Linked DNA regions of Homo sapiens. The protein of the gene in region 1 interacts with the protein of each later gene in a pairwise test. Each region holds a gene or a part of one and is shown in the gene's direction. Other genes may lie near its edges.

The links. The genes of interacting proteins can lie anywhere in the genome.
Region 2: the proteins of PTN (region 1) and BTBD2 interact in a two-hybrid assay, tested with the Homo sapiens proteins (one large-scale study listed by BioGRID and IntAct).
Region 3: the proteins of PTN (region 1) and SPIN1 interact in a two-hybrid assay, tested with the Homo sapiens proteins (one large-scale study listed by IntAct).
Region 4: the proteins of PTN (region 1) and MKKS interact in a two-hybrid assay, tested with the Homo sapiens proteins (one large-scale study listed by BioGRID and IntAct).

What each region holds. Positions count from the first base shown.
Region 1 is NC_000007.14:137,249,260-137,254,126, reverse strand, and holds part of PTN (pleiotrophin isoform 1 precursor), read left to right. Parts: intron 1-489; coding exon 490-663; intron 664-2,735; coding exon 2,736-2,897; intron 2,898-4,867.
Region 2 is NC_000019.10:2,008,577-2,013,443, reverse strand, and holds part of BTBD2 (BTB/POZ domain-containing protein 2), read left to right. Parts: intron 1-4,867.
Region 3 is NC_000009.12:88,390,715-88,395,581, forward strand, and holds part of SPIN1 (spindlin-1), read left to right. Parts: intron 1-4,867. UniProt on the Homo sapiens protein: Chromatin reader that specifically recognizes and binds histone H3 both trimethylated at 'Lys-4' and 'Lys-9' (H3K4me3K9me3) and is involved in piRNA-mediated retrotransposon silencing during spermatogenesis.
Region 4 is NC_000020.11:10,409,585-10,414,451, reverse strand, and holds part of MKKS (molecular chaperone MKKS), read left to right. Parts: intron 1-520; 5' UTR 521-564; coding exon of another isoform or gene 565-717; 5' UTR 718-937; coding exon 938-1,922; intron 1,923-4,867. Other genes in the region: uncharacterized LOC128706666, read left to right, coding at 565-717. UniProt on the Homo sapiens protein: Probable molecular chaperone that assists the folding of proteins upon ATP hydrolysis. Plays a role in the assembly of BBSome, a complex involved in ciliogenesis regulating transports vesicles to the cilia.

The sequences.
Region 1 (4,867 bases):
GGGGTTTCACCATGTTAGCCAGGATGGTCTCGATCTTTTGACCTTGTGATCTGCCTGCTTCGACCTCCCAAAGTGCTGGGATTACAGGCATGAGCCACTTTGCCCAGCTGACAACTGTTATTTCTAATAGAATATTTTCTTCATTTTTAGGAGAACTATATTTTTGACCATCTCTTCTTTTATAGAAATGTTTGCTTCTAAAAGGAGATGCCACTAAATCACTTAGCACAGTCTCTGGCACATAGTAAGAGGGAGTTCAATTAATATTAGTTTTAGCTCTTTTCTCAGTTTTCTTTCTCTCTTCTCTTGATCATTCATTGGTTCAATAATTTGGTTAATATTCATCATGTTTCTACTATTCATTAGACAATAAGGATACAGATTAAAAAACACAGATCCTGCAATTAAGGTGCTCAGGAATGAACTTGGTTATATCTGGAAGTTAAGGAGTTTTCTGTATGTTGATTAGGTTTTCCTCCTTTCATTCAGAAAAAAAAGTGAAGAAGTCTGACTGTGGAGAATGGCAGTGGAGTGTGTGTGTGCCCACCAGTGGAGACTGTGGGCTGGGCACACGGGAGGGCACTCGGACTGGAGCTGAGTGCAAGCAAACCATGAAGACCCAGAGATGTAAGATCCCCTGCAACTGGAAGAAGCAATTTGGCGGTAAGCCTCATGCTACTGAGTTAATCTCCTACTCTGAGATAATTCTCAAATTTTTCCACCAAATGTCTTTTTAAGGATAAGTACTTTTTATTTTAAATAACTTTATCTTACCAGACACAAAGTGACCAGACTGGTCCCATTTCAGGCCAGGCAATTATTTGTTGTGGAGGCTGTCTTGTGCATTTTAGGGTATTTAGGAGCATCGCTGGCTTCTACTCGCTAGTTTCCGGTAGCATTCCTCACCCGCTCCAGATGTGAAAACTAAAAATGTCTCCAAATATCTATGGCCAAATGTACCCTGTTGGTCAAAATCATCCCTGGTTGGGAACCACTGCCTTTCCAAAGGGACATAAAATATATCCTTGATTCCTCTGAATAATGTTAATTGATCTGTCTTCTCTCTCCTTTCTTCTATTTCTAAGTTCCTTTGATTTTTCCTTTCCCCTTTTCTTATTTATTCTCCTGCTTCTCCATGTTTCTCCCTGTCACTTTCAGACCTTCTCTCCCATTTGATCCCTCCCCAACCTCCACACAGTTTCACAGATTCACTTACTGAGTTCAGCAGGGCTGCTCACAGCCACGTTTCATAAATCTTTCTCCCACTGACTGGAGTCAGTCTTATGCTGGCCTGATCTATCTATCTGAGACAGGATCTCTCAACACTTTCAACTTTATATCCAGTATTGAACCCTCAAATAACCTCTTCCACAATCCAGACTTTTTGTCTTTCTTAGCCATAGTGGGACATGATGCCTGAAATGTCCTATCTGTGTTCTATGGAAATGCATTGTGGCCCATAGACAAGTGAGGAAGGATAATGGATGTATACATGTATGTCTTTTTCTCCCTCTGTAATCTTTGGGGTATTTTTTATTTGAATGGATATAGACAAGTTCTATAAAAGTGTGATGGAGAACAGGTACATTTGGTCTTAAATTGTATATGGGCACCTTAAAAACCCACTTACAAAAAGTTTAAAAGGTATATCTTAAAGACTTACATTGAGAATATTAAATAACTCTCAAACTCAACAGTAAACAACAAAACAACAACAACAAAAAACAAAACAAACAAAACCTAACAGTTCAATAAGAAAGTGGGGAAAAAACATTAACAGACATTTTACCAAAGAGGATATATAGGCAACAAATGAACTCCTGAAAATATATTCAGCATCTTTTCCTTATTAGGGAACTAGAAATTGAAACCATAATGAGATATCACTCTACATCTATCAAAGTGGCTAGAATAAAAAATAGTGACAAGACGAAATGCTAGTGAGGGTGCCAAGAAACCAGATCCCTCATATGTTGCCAGTGGAAATTGTAAGGTGGTACAGCCACAGTGGAAAAAGAGTATTGCAGTTTTTTACGAAATGAAACATGCATTTACCATGTAACACAGCAGTTTCTTGGTAATTTATCTCAGAGAAATGAAAACTGATGTTTCCACAAAAACCTATACATGAATTTATATAGCAGTTCTATTTGTAGTAACCCAAGGCTGGTAACAACTCGGATGTCCTTCAGCTGATGAATGGTTAAACAAACTGGGGTACATTGGGACCATGGAATACTACTCAGCAATAGGAAGAAACAGACTATTGATGCACATGACTTGGATGGATCTTCAGGAAATTATGCTAAATAAAAAAGCCAATCTCAGAAGTTTACATATTGTAGAATTCCATTTATGCAACATTTTTAAGCTAGAAAAATGATAGAGCTAGAGAACAGATAAGGAGTTGCCGGGGATTAAGGAGGTGGGGAAGGAGGAAGGTGGCTAGGCCATGACTATAAAGAATGACCCACTGTTGTATTGGGACTGTATATTAATAGTGTATATTAGTGTGTATTAATGGTGTATATTGATGGTGATCGTATGCATCTACACATGTGATAGAATTGAACAGAAATCAATACACACGCATACACTCTGTATTATTTCTTATAGCTGCATATGGATCTATAATTATTTCAATAAAAAAGTTACAAACAAAAGTGTGCCTTTATTATCCTGGAAGTACGATAGGATCTTTCAAGGATTTCTGTTTGGTTCTACCCTGCCTTTAGCGGAGTGCAAATACCAGTTCCAGGCCTGGGGAGAATGTGACCTGAACACAGCCCTGAAGACCAGAACTGGAAGTCTGAAGCGAGCCCTGCACAATGCCGAATGCCAGAAGACTGTCACCATCTCCAAGCCCTGTGGCAAACTGACCAAGCCCAAACCTCAAGGTAAGTCCTTGCCATTATACCACAATTTTAATGGATTGATGGACTCAGGTAAGATCTGGAAAACCCACATTTTCCAGAAGGAAATATTAGGTGAATTACCTTAAGAAAGTGACTGAAAAACTCCCCTACACTGAGAGTCACAAAAATACTTTAAAAATACTTTGAAGCAGGCAGCCTGTGAGTGCAAATTGAAGTCCTCTGCATAGATGAGGGGATTGGTACAGTCTCCTAACCCAAATAAATAACATAGCAAAAGAAACCAGCAAAGACAGTTGTATGATGACCATATATTCCACACTCTTAATTGGAACTGTATCCTGACAAGAAAAACAAACTCAGAATGTTTATGACGGAGACAATTTTAAATCAAACTTCTCCCAGATTATCTGAAATATAGTTTTCACAAAATCAGGAAAATTATTTTACATTTTCCCTTTATTCACTGCATAACTTAATGGGTTCTGCATTTGTTTTCAGAGCCTTTATATTTTTTGAGTTCAATTTGGTTACCAACTACATTCATCACAGAATTTTTAAATGACAGAGATCTGTATCTCCCAGAAAGTCAGGCTCTGCTCTCTTGCTGGAGAAGGTAAAAACAATCATTATGGCCATGAATTCATACATACAAGGATCCCAACTGAGGGAAATAAACTCTTTCATCATGGATGTTATTGTCTGAATTGTGTTTTCCCAAATTCATATGCTGAAGTTTTAACCCCCTCACAATGTCACTGTATTGGAGACAGGGTCTTTAAAGAGGTAATTGAGATAAAATGCAGTCACAAGGGTAGGCCCTAATCCAGTGCAGCTGGTGTGTTTATAAGAAGGGAGATTAGGACACAGAAATACATAGAGAGAAGACTGTGTGAAGACAGAGGGAGAAGAATGCCATCTACAAGCCATAGGGAGAACCTTCAGAAGAAATCAGCCCTACAGATGCCTTGATCTTAGGCTTGTAGCTTCCAGAACTGCAAGACAATAAATAAATAAATTTCTGTTGTTTAAGCCACCAACTCTGTGGTACTTTGTTATAGGAGCTATAGCCAACTAATACAATGGGACTCAATGAACTCTAAATTCAAATACCTTCTTGGCCTCTACTCATATATTTTAACTCTAAGGTGGTCCTGAAAATTCATACTGCCAGAGAAATTGTAAGGAGAGATTCAGAAAAATGACCATGTAAGAAATGCTCATAATAAATAAAAGTAGAAAAAAAAAATCTGCAGAAGGTGATGGAGATTGGCTGGTTTCCTGCTGGTGGCCAGAAAGGACTTTATTTTTCACAGGCCTGGCTTTTTGGCCACTGCTGGAGTTGTCCATAGAAATAGTTATCTCCAACTTCAGGATGGCCAGGTACAGGCTGGACCTGCAGGTGGTGAGTCTAGGGTTCAGGCTGCCCTTTCCAGATCATGGAAATCTCTGCCTGTTGTCATATGGTTTTTGGAAGGCATGAAGCAGGGCTGGAGTGACTGCAGTGAGTACTTATGCAGACTTCCCAAATGTCATTTGTCCAGAGACAACCACATAAATCTAAGCAAAATCAGTGCCCTATCTACCAAGTGAAACATTTCCAAAAATGGCAAAACTCAGAGTTACTGTAGTCAAAATAATTTATTTTTAGTCCAGCTGTAGAACCAAAATATTCAGCATAAATACAGAATTGAAAGGAAAAGAAATTAAAGAAGCTTCCACATTCTAGCACAGTGATGCTCAACCTGGGCTTCACATTAGAATATTCTGTGGGAACTTGCAAAACTCCCAGTGCCCAAGTATAGCACAGACTAACCCAATCAGCATCAGTAGTTTAAAAATTGTGAATGCATCTCAGAAGGTTTCATGATGCAGCCAAAATTGAGAACTACTGCTCTAGTATGGAATCCATTGACAAGAGACCACACACACATGCATACACATGTAACACACACACACACACACACACACACACACACACGTGCACTGTCCTG
Region 2 (4,867 bases), on another chromosome or scaffold:
TCCAACCCAGAGACCCCCAGCTCCGGGGTCCCTCCCTCCCCAGCCCCCAGCCCTCCTTTCTGGGAAAGAAGTGGGTTTGGCCCAGTATCTGTCTTTGCCAGTGTGCGGGGTACCGGCCCCAGGCCCCAGGTTCCCTCCACTCCCCGGTCCCTCTTACCCTGCCCCTCATTGGTCGGGGGCAGGGGCTGGGTTTTCTTGCTGCGGGCACTGGAGGGGGAGGGTCCTGCCCTCCCTTCTGACCTTCGGGTGCTTTTGTTAACGTGTTCTGGCTTCTTCCTGGGTGTTTATGGGCAGCTGGGTCTCCTTTCGTGGGGTCCTGCCCTGGGCGGTACTTAGCAGAGGTTCCTGCCCCTGGAGGGTTCCGGGGCCTCCTACGGCTTGTGCCGTCCGTGTCGCCGTCCCTGTCTCTGTCGTCCTTAGCTGCTGGGCCTCTCCTAGCTTGGAGTGAGGGGCGGTGGGTTTGCTCCCTCCACCTGGGTGGTCTTTGTGCTCTTTGGGGAGGGGGTAGGTTGGATGCAGCTGGAACTCACCCAGCAGCAGGTGCAGCTGGAGAATCCCAGGCTTTCTGTTTGAGGGGGGAGGTGGGGCGCCCCGGGCACCGGCTGACCTTGGGACATGTATGCGATTGCACTTGAGGGACCGCTGGCTCGGTTGCAAAGTGGGGAAGATGGAGGCAGGACAAGGACCCCTTGGAGAAAAGTAGGTGAGGGGTCTGCCCCCGGGGGGCTCAGGAGAGGGCAATGAGGCCCAGCGGGAGATAGCAGCAAGGTAAGGTGGGCGGGCCTGGGACAGCGGACCCTCGACATGCGGGGTTAGGGGCGTGGACCCCCACTCAGCTCAAATCCAAGTACAACTTTTGACTCCCACGAACTTAACTAGGAATGGCTTCTCGCTGACCGGAGGCCTTGTGAGGACACTTGGTCAATGCACACCAGCCTCCTGTTCTCACAATAACAGGCTGGAGAACAGAAAATACATTCAGAAAAGTCTAAGGGGCCGGGTGCGGGGGCGCACGCCTGGAATCCCAGCACTTTGGGAGGCCGAGGCGGGCAGATCACGAGGTCGGGAGATCGAGACCAGCCTGGTCAACACGGTGAAACCCTGTCTCTACAAAAATACAAAAATTAGCCGGGCGTGGTGGCGCACACCTGTAATCCCAGCTACTCAGGAGGCTGAGGCAGGAGAATCTCGTGAACCCAGGAGGTGGAGGTTGCAGGGAACCGAGATTGCGCCATTGCACTCCAGCCCAGGCGACACAGTGACACACCATCTCAAAAAAAATAAAGGACAGGCTGGGCGCGGTGGCTCACGCCTGTAATCCCAGCACTTTGGGAGGCCGAGGCGGGCGAATCATGAGGTCAGGAGTTTGAGACCATCCTGGCCAACGTGGTGAAACACCGTCTCTACTAAAAATACAAAAAATTAGCCGGGTGTGGTGGTGCACAACTGTAGTCCCAGCTACTTGGGAGGCTGAGGCAGGAGAATCACTTGAACCCGGGAGGCGGAGGTTGCAGTGAGCCGAGGTTGCGCTACTGCACTCCAGCCTGGGCGACAGAGCAAGACTCTGTCTCAAAAAAAAAAGGAAAAAAAATAAAAGGAGAAATCCTGTTTGCTGTTCACACAGTGGAGGTGGCCACGATGAAGGCCTGTGTCCTTGTGTTCATATTGAGGGCTGAGGAGCAGGAGCAGGAGGGTGGGTCTGTCTCCGGGGTGGCAGAGGTGGAAGGGGAGGCAGGAGAGGCCGGCACCGTTGGGGCAGCCTTTATTGAAAAAATTCACATATGAGTGGACCTGTGCAGTTGAAGCCTGCCTTGTTGAAAGGTCATCTGTGTTTCCTTAGCATTTCAGGAGGGTTGAAAATGGAGAGGGGGCACTGACCTGGTCCAGAACGACCCCCTGAGCAAGTGATGTTGATGGAGAGTGCAGTGCCCCAGGCTCAGGGATGGAAGGCCCAGAGCCCAGAGGGGCTGGGCAGGTGGGAGCCATGGCAAGGCCGGAGCAGGAGGAGTGAGGGAGGCCCTGTGGCCCAGTGTGACCAGATCCGCATTGAGGGTGGAACGCGCCGTGGATGGGCCCAGGAGCGAGGCTGGGGAGTAGCAGCTGCAGACTCCAGGCAGGAGACAGCAGCGGGCTCGGTGGGGACGGCAGAAATGAGGGGTAGAGGATGCAGGTCCTCTTTGGAGGAAGCGAGTTCCTGTGGCCAGGAGAGGAGGCAGCTTGGCAGGTGAGGGCGTGGGGGGCTGTGGTGGGGGTCCCCAGACTTCTGGCTGGAGCATCACAAGCCAGGACAGGCTCAGGAGGGACAAGTACTGGCTTGGATGTGTTGGCGGGACCTGGGGCTGAGAGGTCCGCAGAGCAGTGTGTCCCAAGTGCTCTGTGCCTCAGTTTCCATGATTGAAACAAGGTCACTCAGACACATCTGTCCTGGGGCTGTGGGAACAAACGGACCCGATGGGTTGCTGACAGCCACAGGCCACACAGCAGAGAGAAAGAAAACAGCAGCTGAGGCCGGGCGCAGTGGCTCACGCCTATCATCCCAGCACTTCGGGAGGCCGAGATGGGCAGACATCTGAGGTCAGGGGTTTGAGACCAGCCTGGCCATCGTGGCAAAACCCCGTCTCTACTAAAAATACACAAATAAGCTGGGCGCGGTGGCACGCACCTGTAATCCCAGCTACTCAGAGTCTGAGGCAGGAGGATGGCTTGAATCCGGAAGGCAGAAATTGCAGTGAGCCAAGATTGCGCCACTGCACTCCAGCCTGGGTGACAGGGCGAGACTCCGTCTCAAAAAAAAAAAAAAGGTGGGGGGATGTCGGGACGAACTGGGGGTGCTGGGATAAAGTCTGGAGTTCACCGATGAGCAGAGAGGGGCCGGGCCTTGCCAGCTGTGAGGAGAGCAAGTGGCCTGGGCTTGGGCCTGGTCCCTGGCGGGGGTGCAGGGTGAGCTGAGACATGGCAGAGAGGAGGCTGGGAGCAGGCCTTGGTGGTGGCCCCAGTGTCTGGACCGTCGCGCAGGGGTCGGCGTTTGTGCTGGGGAGGAGGCCAGGGGTTGCACGCGGCTTCTGGGCTGTTCCCCGGTCCTGGATGGGCACCCGTCCATCTCAGCGCGCTGGAGCCTGGCACACAGTAGGCACGCAGTGATTGTGCATTGAATGATCTGTGGGAATTAAACATCTGATTCTCTCATGGGGCTTGAAGGGAGAACTGAAGATCTCCAGGGTTGCACTTTTGTAGATGTGCACATTGGCTGGTCCCATGAAGTTAGTATCTAAAATACCTTTTTCTTTTTTTTGAGACGGAGTCTCGCTCTGTTGCCCAGGCTGGAGTCCAGTGGCGCGATCTCCGCTCACTGCAAGCTCCGCCTCCCAGGTTCATGCCATTCTCCTGCCTCAGCCTCCCGAGTAGCTGGGACTACAGGCACCCGCCACCACACTTGGCTAATTGTATTTTTTAGTAGAGACGGGGTTTCACCATGTTAGCCGGGCTAGTCTCAAACTCCCGACCTCAGGTGATCCGCCCACCTCGGCCTCCCAAAGTGCTGGGATTACAGGCGTGAGCCACCGCACCTGGCCTCCCCTCCTTTTTTGTTTTTTTGAGACAGAATCTTGCTCTATTGCCCAGGCTGGGGTACAGTGGCGTGATCTCCGCATGCTGCAGCCTTCAGCTCCCTGGCTCAAGCAATTCTCCTGTCTCAGCCTTCTGAGTAGCTGGGATTACAGGTGTGCGCCACCACGCCCAGCTAATTTTTGTATTTTTAGTAGAGACAGTATTTCCGTCATGTTGCCCAGGGTGATGGTGAACTCCTGAGCTCAGGTGATCCACCCACCTCGGCCTCCCAAAGTGCTGGGATTCCAGGTGTGAGCCACCGCGCCCAGCCTAACGTATCTTTATTCACTCTATCATGGAACTGTCAGCATTGTAGCGAGGTCTAGAAGTAGAACAATCTGGGTGGGTGTGGTGGCTCACGCCTGTAATCCCAGCACTTTGGGAGGCCGAGTCAGGCGGATCACGAGGTCAGGAATTTGAGACCAGCCTGGACAACATGGTGAAACCCCGTCTCTACTAAAAATACAAAAAATTAGCCTGGTGTGGCGGTGGGCACCTGTAATCCCAGCTACTTGGGAGGCTGAGGCAGGAGAATTGCTTGAACCCGGGAGGCGGAGGTTGCAGTGAGCCAAGATCACGCCACCACACTCCAACCTGGGTGACAGACTGAGACTCCGCCTCAAAAAAGAAGAAAAAAGAAAAACCACAAAAATTAGCCGGGCGTGGTGGCGAGCGCCTGTAACCCCAGCTACTGGGGAGGCTGAGGCAGGATAATCGTTTGAACCTGGGAGGCGGAGGTTGCAGTGAGCCAGGATTGTGCCACTGCACTTCAGCCTGGGTGACAAAGCGAGACTCTGTCTTGGAAAAAAAAAAAAAAGAACAGTGTGTTCTGGGGTCTCACATTTCATTGACTGCTTTGTGAGTCCTTGTTCCCATAACACATTGTTTGATGATTGCTGCTTTGTGGTATGTTTTGAGAACTGCTCACCAAATTCTTCCCAACTTTATTCTTTGTGAAGACTTTTCAGGCTGAGTGCAGTGGCTCACATCTGTAATCCCAGCACTTTGGGAGGCTGAGGTGGGAGGATCACTTGACCCCAGGAGTTCGAGACCAGTCTGGCCAATATAGCGAGACCTCATTACTTGGACATGGTGGTGTGTGCCTGTGGTCCCTGCTACTCAGGAGGCTCGGGTAGGAGGATCACCTGAGCCTGGGAGGTTGCCGCTGCAGTGAGCCATGATCCTACCACTGCACTCCATCCTGGGCGATAGAGTGAGACTCTGTCCCTAAAAAAAAAAAAAAAAAAAGCTGGGCACAGTG
Region 3 (4,867 bases), on another chromosome or scaffold:
GGTATTGTGAAAACAATATTCTGGAGTTAGACATGGAATCACAATGGCCTTCCAAGTCAGAACAGTCTGGGTTGAAATTGACTCCTTACTGGTCCAAAGCCACATAACTGATTCATCATGCAGCCTTTTTTTAAAAAAAGTTTTTTTTTAAAGCTACTCAAATATGTCAGTTTTATTTTCTCTGTACACACATTTGTTACTGAAAATTGCAAAAACAGCACATTGAAGGTCCTCTTATTGGAGTTCACATTTTTGAAAACCAGAAAATTTAATAATTATGCTCTTGCCAAACTACCCACTGTTTTCTTTATATTCTTGCCCCACAAGTTGCTTTACTTGAACTCTTGGGTTGGGCTTCATCTCACTGACTTCAGGCTTCTAACACACATAGGACACTTAGGACCTACTGGCTCTTTGGGTCACATCAGGGAGGAGAGCTGAAGTATGTTGAAGTTACTCAAATACATTCAAGCTACATAGATCTCTGATAAATTATTGGTGGTATGGTAGAAATGAAAATATACCCAAAAAAATCACAGAACTGTTTATTAAAATTATTGGTATACAGGCTCTTCTAACATAGATTAGCTTTCTCAACCTAATACATAAAATTACCAGCAAGAAAAAAAAAGTACAAGAATGACAGTTTATGGTTGAATTGGCTTGGTGTCATGATTCCCTGTTGTAGCATTCTCAGGCTATCTATGATAACAGAAACTGCAGCCACATTTGAATGGTTCCCTTCTTGATTCATTCTGAACTCTCCCTTTGGCCCAGTGTCTACTAGTTTTTCAAGCCAAGAACATCTGTTGAGTAACAGGTATCTCAATTTTGCCATACTTCCTTTCTGCATAGGTAGCAGCGTTCTTACTTCTACTCCTGAGGCAAGCCATCTCTGATGTCCTGGAAGGTCGTTTCTCTTCTATCCAGTTGTTGGGATGAATCTTCTGGTAGAAGGGAAGGGAATTTGGTACTAGGGTTGAAAGTCACGCTACTGAAGTTCTTTATTGACATCTCTGAGCAGAAGAGAGGCCCGAGTCGTCCTGGGGATTTTCTTCACTGAGCATTTGTGAAGATTCTGGGGTCAAGGTTGGGTTAAACTTTTGTGGTGGGTCCATCCGCGGTCTAGTCAACAGTACTAAGCTCTTCCTGCATCTTTGGGACCCAGCGGGAAGTGATGCCAGCTCTCAAATTGCTACAAGGTATCCTGGAAAGAAATCTATGACCCAGAAAGAGCCTGAAAACCCAAACTCCAGCAAATATTGGTGAAAGAGCCAACCCGCAAAGCCTTTTAAAACCTTGAATTCCTTACCTATAAACTGGGATAAAACCTATGGTGTAAGTCTGTTCTGAGAATTACATGAAATGGATTTATAGAGTTCTCAGTACAGTTCCTGAAATACAGCAGCTGACGCCAGTAGATGTTGATTTCCTTCTCCTTTCTACTTTTGAACTTAGCTGTAGTTATTAGCATTTTTTTAATGTTGAGGTAAACAGTTTCCTTAGTTGTGCATCAGTATTCAGTCCAATTTAATGTTAAATTATGTTTTTACTGGGAGCCTGTTCATGACCTTAAAATTGCCGTAAACCCTTTATAGAACAAGTCGTGTTTGGCTAAATATATAAACACAGATGTATCCTTACAGACTTTATAGTCTGATAGAGGAGATACACATGCATATAATGAGGGAATTCTGTGCTGAAGGTATCTGGGAAGAGAAGGTGATTCCATAGATTATCAGAATGGGAGAAGAAAGACATCTGGATGGAGGGGAAAGCAGGAACAGAGGCATGAGAGGAGTTAAAGAGGCCATCGGGGATTTCAATCCCAGCCAAAAGTTAGCCCCTTGTTACCTGTCTCCTCTCCTCTCCTCTCTTCTCCTTCCTTCCCTCCTTCCTTCCTTCTTTCCTTCCTTCCTTCCTTCCTCCCTCTTTTTCTACCTATCTACCTAGCTACTATTTTCTATCTATCCTCCTTTGTGAGTGTGTTTATGTATAGCAGGGGACGAGAACACCTACCTCATCAGGGGTGAGCTTAAATGAAGTAAAATGTTTCATAGGCTCCTGGTGTACAGTAAATGCCCAGTTGATATTGATGATGATGTCACCACTGCCTACACCACCTGTAGTTTCTTTCCTATGGCTGATCTGTCTAGGGATGAATTTGGGGGCCACCTTTTAAATTCTGCATGTAACATTAAGGTGGTTGGTGTTGAATTTGTAGGCAGAGGGAAACCATTGAAAGCAGGGGCAGGATTGGACCTGTGTTTTAGAACAGTATGAAAGGTGAGTTGGAGGAACCTGCCCATGTAGGATCTTTAATCTCCAGAGTCTAGCCTGTTAGAGAAGCTGGTGAAGTCATTTAAGGCATGGGGTATTGGTCTGAACTCAGAATATTTAATGTTATGTTAAATGTGCTTTTTTTTTTTTTTTTCCTGAAGGGAGGGGAGGAGGAAGAATTTACTCAATGTAAATATTATTTTATCCAAATGGTGAGAGAATACATGAAAAGACTAGTAAGGCATCTTTTTACCATTTGAGATGTTATAGTAGCGTGTTAACAAAATAGGCAATTTTTTTTTTAAAACTAGGTTATATTTCTTTGTAGTTGTTTATGCTTGGGCCTGTCTGCAAATGATTTAACAAATCATATCATATATTTGAATTACTGTTGCTTAACCTGACACAGGCAATAAGGAGAGAAAAGAATGTCCTTTTTCTTGCTTTTGGGTTTTTTTTTTTTTTTTTTTTTTTTTTTTGAGACGGAGTCTCCCTCTGTCACCAGGCTGGAGTGCAGTGGCGCAGTCTCAGCTGACTGCACCCTCCACCTCCCGGGAGTCAAGCGATTCTCCTGCCTCAGCCTCCCGAATAGCTGGGTCTACAGGCATGTGCCACCACACCTAGCTAATTTTTGTATTTTTAGTAGAGACGGGGGTTTCATCATGTTGGCCAGGATGGTCTCGATCTCTTGACATTGTGATCTGCCCGCCTCGGCCTCCCAGAGTGTTGGGATTACAGGCGTCAGCCATCTCTCCAGAGCTGATTTTTTTTGGAGGGAGGGGTTTGAATTACTTTTTTCTTTCTCTCTTTAGCATCATTGTAGACCCATGGATTTTTATGTATCCAATGTGTGTTTTTGGTTTTTTAAATTTTGAGACAGTCTTGCTCTGTCACCCAGGCTGGAGTGCAGTGGTGTGACCTTGGCTTACTACAACCTCCGCCTCCCGGGTTCAAGCTATTCTCCTGGCTCAGCCTCCCAAGCAGCTGGGATTACAGGCGTGCACCACCATGCCTGGCAAATTTTTTGTATTTTTAGTAGAGATGGGGTTTTACCTTGTTGGTCCAGCTGGTCTCAAACTCCCAAGCTCAAGTGATCCTCTCACCTCAGCCTCCCAAAGTGCTGGGATTACAGGTGTGAGCCACCATGTGTGGCTTTATCCAGTGTTTTAATCAAATACTCACTGTTTTTCCTTAGCTTTTCACAACTTGGACATGTTGAGGTCCTTTCAACCTGGTTCTCTTTCCTTTGACATGACACGTAATCTCTGAAGCTTTTCTTGCTTTCTGACACAAGATGTCTAAGGTTCACTTTGTGCTTTTCCTGCCAAATACCTATCAACCGAGTCTTTCAGCTTGCTTTATTGAGGATTAGAATTTAGATACAGAAATCTGGGTGTTATATGTTCTTACTGTTAGAATGCCCATGCTTTTATTGGACAGCCATGGGAAGCATACAGATTTTGATTTTTATATTGGTATTTCCAGTTCGAATTTAACATCACAGAGTTTTTACTATGAGCTTATCCTTTTTTCTCTAACGTTGAAAATTTACATTCTTAGCAACATTAATATAATTGCATTATCTTACAGTATAAATGTAGTTTGAAAATAACACTAATAAGCAACTGTAGCTTTATGTTTGGTTATGGTTTTTTCCTTAAAATATATCCACATAAGCATGTACAGTTGACATTCTAATTTGGAAGGCCATTTGAAAAGATTTTCTCTGATTATGTTATATGTTTGATAATTAATTTGGGTTGTTTGCCTGAAATTCTTCCTTTAAGAATTGCTTTAGTTTTTTATTTAATGTATTTTTTTTTTTTTTTTTTTGAGACAGAGTCTCGCTCTGTCGCCCAGGCTGGAGTCCAGTGGTGCGATCTCGGCTCACTGCAAGCTCCGCCTCCCGGGTTCACGCCATTCTCCTGCCTCAGCCTCCTGAGTAGCTGGGACTACAGGTGCCCGCCACCACGCCCGGCTAATTTTTGTATTTTTAGTAGAGACGGGGTTTCACTATGTTAGCCAAGATGGTCTCGATCTCCTGACCTCGTGATCTGTCCGCCTCGGCCTGCCAAAGTGCTGGGATTACAGGCGTGAGCCACCGCGCCTGGCCTATTTAATGTATTTTTTAACATGTAGAACATTTATGTGAACATTTATGTAGTTAAAAAATCTGATCTGTGTTAAAAAGTTATGTTCACAGCTTCACTTTAATTCTGTTCCTCCACGAATTTCTCTCTTGCCCCAGTTGTTTTTGCTTTGTTTTTCTGATATTTCATTTTTGCAAATGTAAGCATATGTGTATATTTTTGTTTCCCTTTCCTACACAATAGGCAGCGTTCTATGCACACTGCTCTGCCGTTCTATGCACACTGCTCCCTTTTACTTAATTTATTCTGGAGAGCGCTTCATTGAAGTGCGTGCTTGCAACTCATCTCCTAATGATGAACATTTGGGTTGTTTATATTCTCTTGGCTGTTATAAATATTGCGGCAATGAATAACCTTGTGGGTATATTGTTTTTTATTTGTGCAGATACAGCTTTAAGATAGATGTGGGGTGAAAGGTAAACACATTTGTAGTTTTG
Region 4 (4,867 bases), on another chromosome or scaffold:
CTCTACTAAAAGTACAAAATTAGCTGGGCATGGTGGCGCATGCCTGTAATCCCTGCCACTGAGGAGGGTGAGGCAGGAGAATTGCTTGAACCCAGGAGGCTGAGGTTGTGGTGAGCCAAGATCACGCCATTGCACTCCAGCCTGGGCAACAAGAGCGAAACTCCATCTCAAAAAAAAAAAAAAAAAGACTCAGAGACCTAATTCTCTGTTTTATATCGTAGCATTTCTCTCCTAGAAGCATGCCATATTCAAATAACTGTGCTGTAAGCTTTCTAGCCATGTTGTTGTGCCTTACAGAATCACTGAAATACAAGCACTTTTTCTTGTAGAGGGGATTTATTGAAGAATAAAGGAATTTTAAGTCAAAGTTGGTCTACCTTTCTCATTTTCTGGACGTTTGTGCCAGTTAGTAGTTCCTTTTTCTAAAAAGGCAGCAGAGCATTAGAATAAATTATTAAACTGCAGTCTACAAACTGCTTGGGAAGTATTTCTCTAAAATGTTTTTTTTATTATTTATTAGGTAAAGAAGCAGCTTTGAATCTGAGCTTCATATCGAAAGAAGAGATGAAAAATACCAGTTGGATTAGAAAGAACTGGCTTCTTGTAGCTGGGATATCTTTCATAGGTGTCCATCTTGGAACATACTTTTTGCAGAGGTCTGCAAAGCAGTCTGTAAAATTTCAGTCTCAAAGCAAACAAAAGAGTATTGAAGAGTGAAGTAAAATAAATATTTGGAATTACTAATTTGTCATTAAATCATTCTATGCTGATTAGCTTCATAAACATTGAACTTTTTGATTTTATAGCCACAATGCTGCATATTCATACTTTAATTCCTAAAGAATAATTTTTAATGTTAAAACGTGATAATGCAATAAATAGAAAAATGTGGTTTACAAAATAAAAACGGTCTTCACTAGTTACCACCTGAAGTAAGATGTCTCGTTTGGAAGCTAAGAAGCCATCATTGTGTAAGAGTGAACCACTGACAACTGAGAGAGTCAGGACCACACTTTCTGTCTTGAAAAGAATTGTAACATCATGCTATGGCCCCTCAGGTAGGCTGAAGCAGCTGCACAATGGCTTTGGAGGTTACGTGTGTACAACCTCACAGTCCTCAGCTCTGCTCAGTCACCTTTTGGTCACACATCCCATTTTAAAGATCCTGACAGCCTCCATACAGAATCATGTGTCAAGCTTCAGTGATTGTGGCTTATTCACAGCTATTCTTTGCTGCAACCTGATTGAAAATGTTCAGAGATTAGGCTTGACACCCACCACTGTCATTAGATTAAATAAACATCTTTTGAGTCTTTGCATCAGTTATCTCAAGTCTGAGACCTGTGGTTGTCGAATCCCAGTGGACTTTAGTAGTACTCAGATCCTCCTTTGTTTGGTGCGTAGTATATTAACAAGTAAACCTGCCTGTATGCTCACCAGAAAGGAAACAGAGCATGTCAGTGCTTTGATCCTGAGAGCCTTTTTGCTTACAATTCCAGAAAATGCTGAAGGCCACATCATTTTAGGAAAGAGTTTAATTGTACCTTTAAAAGGTCAAAGAGTTATAGATTCCACTGTATTACCTGGGATACTCATTGAAATGTCAGAAGTTCAATTAATGAGGCTATTACCTATCAAAAAATCAACTGCCCTCAAGGTGGCACTCTTTTGTACAACTTTATCCGGAGACACTTCTGACACTGGAGAAGGAACTGTGGTGGTCAGTTATGGGGTTTCTCTTGAAAATGCAGTCTTGGACCAGCTGCTTAACCTAGGAAGGCAGCTAATCAGTGACCACGTAGATCTTGTCCTGTGCCAAAAAGTTATACATCCATCTTTGAAGCAGTTTCTCAATATGCATCGTATTATTGCCATAGACAGAATTGGAGTGACTCTGATGGAACCCCTGACTAAAATGACAGGTAAAAATCACTCTTTGCTTTTGCCTCTTACAGTTAATAAATCACACTTTTTTGAGCAGAGATATTTTTGGTTTGTGTCACTGTTAACATCTTGAAAAATTGACCCAGCATGTGTCAGTATCATTTCTGGCAGCAAAGGTTTCTGGAAAAGATCCTGTATTGTTCACATACTAAAAATGCAGTGATTATAGCCATTTTCTATGTATTTTCAGCCCCCTAATGTACTATATCATCTAACCCCCAAATATTTTACAGGTTATTGAGAAGTCTAACATCCCCATAATCCTAAGGTCTTTCATACTTTACACAAAATTCTTCAGCCTCAATTGACAAAACTTTTAAATCATGTTATATTTAGAAAGTAATTTTGTAACTAGAATGACCCTTTTTCTTCACTTTGTCATAATTCCAGCAAACTTCTGTACTTCTCCTTAAGTAGTTGTTTCTAATGGGAGGGGGATGTACATGCACCTATGTTTTACCTATATCAAAACTGTTCCCACCTGACCTTGAGAACCAAGATCATCTTTTACTTTCAGCACCTATTACAGGCCTGGCCCACTGTGGGTGTTCTAAAGTGTTTGTTGAATTGACCGAAATATATTTGGTAATATACAGAACTAAAATAGGCAAAAAATTCACTGTATTTTACAAACTCAGCAAATTAAAAGCAGATATAAGTACTGTTAGAGCCAAAGAAAAATGACAAGCTGAAGAGTTCCTGATGTGAGCTACTTTTCAGTATCCTTTAACTGCTTTGACAATCTATCAGAAAGATGATCATTTAGTCTGCATTGTTTCCAATTTTTAAGTTACTAGACTTAAACCATTGTTAAAGTTTATTTAATAAAAGTCTTAGTATAAATTATCAAAAAGGAGCCATATGTATGCCAAGTGTTGAATACATAATATCTCTGGGTTATTGCCCTACCTTGGTAAGACTCAAATGACTGTCAAAAGTAGAGTTTCTTAATAATGGAAATAATTCCTTGGAACTCGTTGTTGGTATGGTAAGTCAGACTGATAGCCTTAAATATCTACTAGCTTTGCATGAATCTGGCAATTTCCAGTTTGTGAATACTGGGTCTTCCAGACTCATTTTTAAAATATGGGACACTTTAGCTGGGTGTGGTACATGCCTGTAGTCCCAGCTACCTGGGAAGTTGAGGCAGGAGGATTACTTGAGCCAAGGAGTTCAAGTCCAGCCTGGGCAACAAAGCAGGACTACATCTAAAAAAACAGAAAGGGCTGGGCGGTGGCTCATGCCTGTAATCCCAGCACTTTGGGAGGCCAAGGTGAGCGGATCACAAGGTCAGGAGATCGAGACCATCCTGGCCAACATGGTGAAACCCCATCTCTACTAAAAATACAAAAAAATTAGCTGGGCATGGTGGCCGCACTTGTAATCCCAGCTACTTGGGAGGCTGAGACAGGAGAATTGCTTGAACCCAGGAGGTGGAGGTTGCAGTGAACCGAGATTGCGCCACTGCACTCCAGCCTGGTGACAGCAAGATTCCCTATCAAAAAAAAAAAAACCAAACATTTTCCCGTAGAAACCATATTGTAACTGGGGGCTGGGTTTCCACACTAGCCCATAATATATACCTAAACATGGCATTAATAGCCATAGCTTTAGTCCTGGATCTTGGGAGCAGAGAGCTTTTGAGAAAAAAAGAAAAGGGGGAAAACTACCAGGCACATAGCGCAGGTAAACTTTTAGGTAGATGAAGTATGTTTTTGGCCTTACCTATCTCCCCTGGTAATCTAAGTTAACATTACCTCATTTCAGGCCTTCAAACAAAATTCCTGTTTATTAATGATATAGGTTGTGTAGTGGGTGTTACTGTGGATGGGTGCCACATGTGAAGCATATTGCAGCTTACAGAGGTTTTTGTTTGTTTTAAGGTGGAGTCTCACTCTATCGCCCAGGCTGGAGTGCAGTGGCGCAATCTCGGCTCACTGCAACCTCTGCCTCCTGGGTTCAAGCAATTCTGTCTCAGCCTCCCTAGTAGCTGGAACTACAGGCACACGCCACCACGCCTGGCTAGTTTTTTGTATTTTTAGTAGAGACAGGTTTCACCATATTGGTCAGGCTGGTCCTGAACTCCTGAGCTCAGGTGATCCACCCATCTCAACCTCCCAAAGTACTGGGATTACAGGCATGAGCCACCACGCCCGGCCTGGAGCATTTTTAACATTTGACTTGGTTTGATTTATTTGTGAAGTATGCATTATTATCCCCACTTGCCTCTCATGTGAGGGAGGCAGAAAAGTTAAATGACATGAGTGACAGCATCCAGTGGCTGATAAGCAGTAGAGCCGGCCTTCTCATGCAGAATCTGTTGTTCCCACCATGTGAAAGAAATTATACTATAAGATTTTGGGTTTTTTACTTAGATCACTTTTTTAAAGTATTCATTATTCTTGAATATTTCAGAAGTAAACAATATTCAAATAAGTGAAATTGTTTAGTGATTATATTCTATAAATTTTTTGAGATGGAAGTGTTTTTAGGCATTTTAGCTTTTTTTTTTTTTTTTTTTTTTTTTTTTGAGACAAAGTCTCGCTCTGTTGCCCAGGCTAGAGTGCAGTGGCGCAATCTCAGCTCACTGCTCACTGCAACCTCTGCCCCCCAGGTTCAAGCGATTCTCCTGCCTCAGCCTCCCAAGCAGCTGGGATTACAAGCACCTGCCACCACGCCCGGCTAGTTTTTGTATTTTTAGTAGAGACGGGGTTTCACCATGTTGGCCAGGCTGGTCTCGAACTCCTGACCTTAGGCAATGCCCGCCTCAGCCTCCTAAAATGCTGGGATTACAGGCATGAGCCACTACACCCGGCCGACATTTTAGACTTTCAAACTAAACCCCATTAGTTTGAAAGAAACCATCTTTTAAAGGTGAGTCTGAAAGAAAAGGAAACTAGCTGAAAGGGGTGAATGGCTCAGA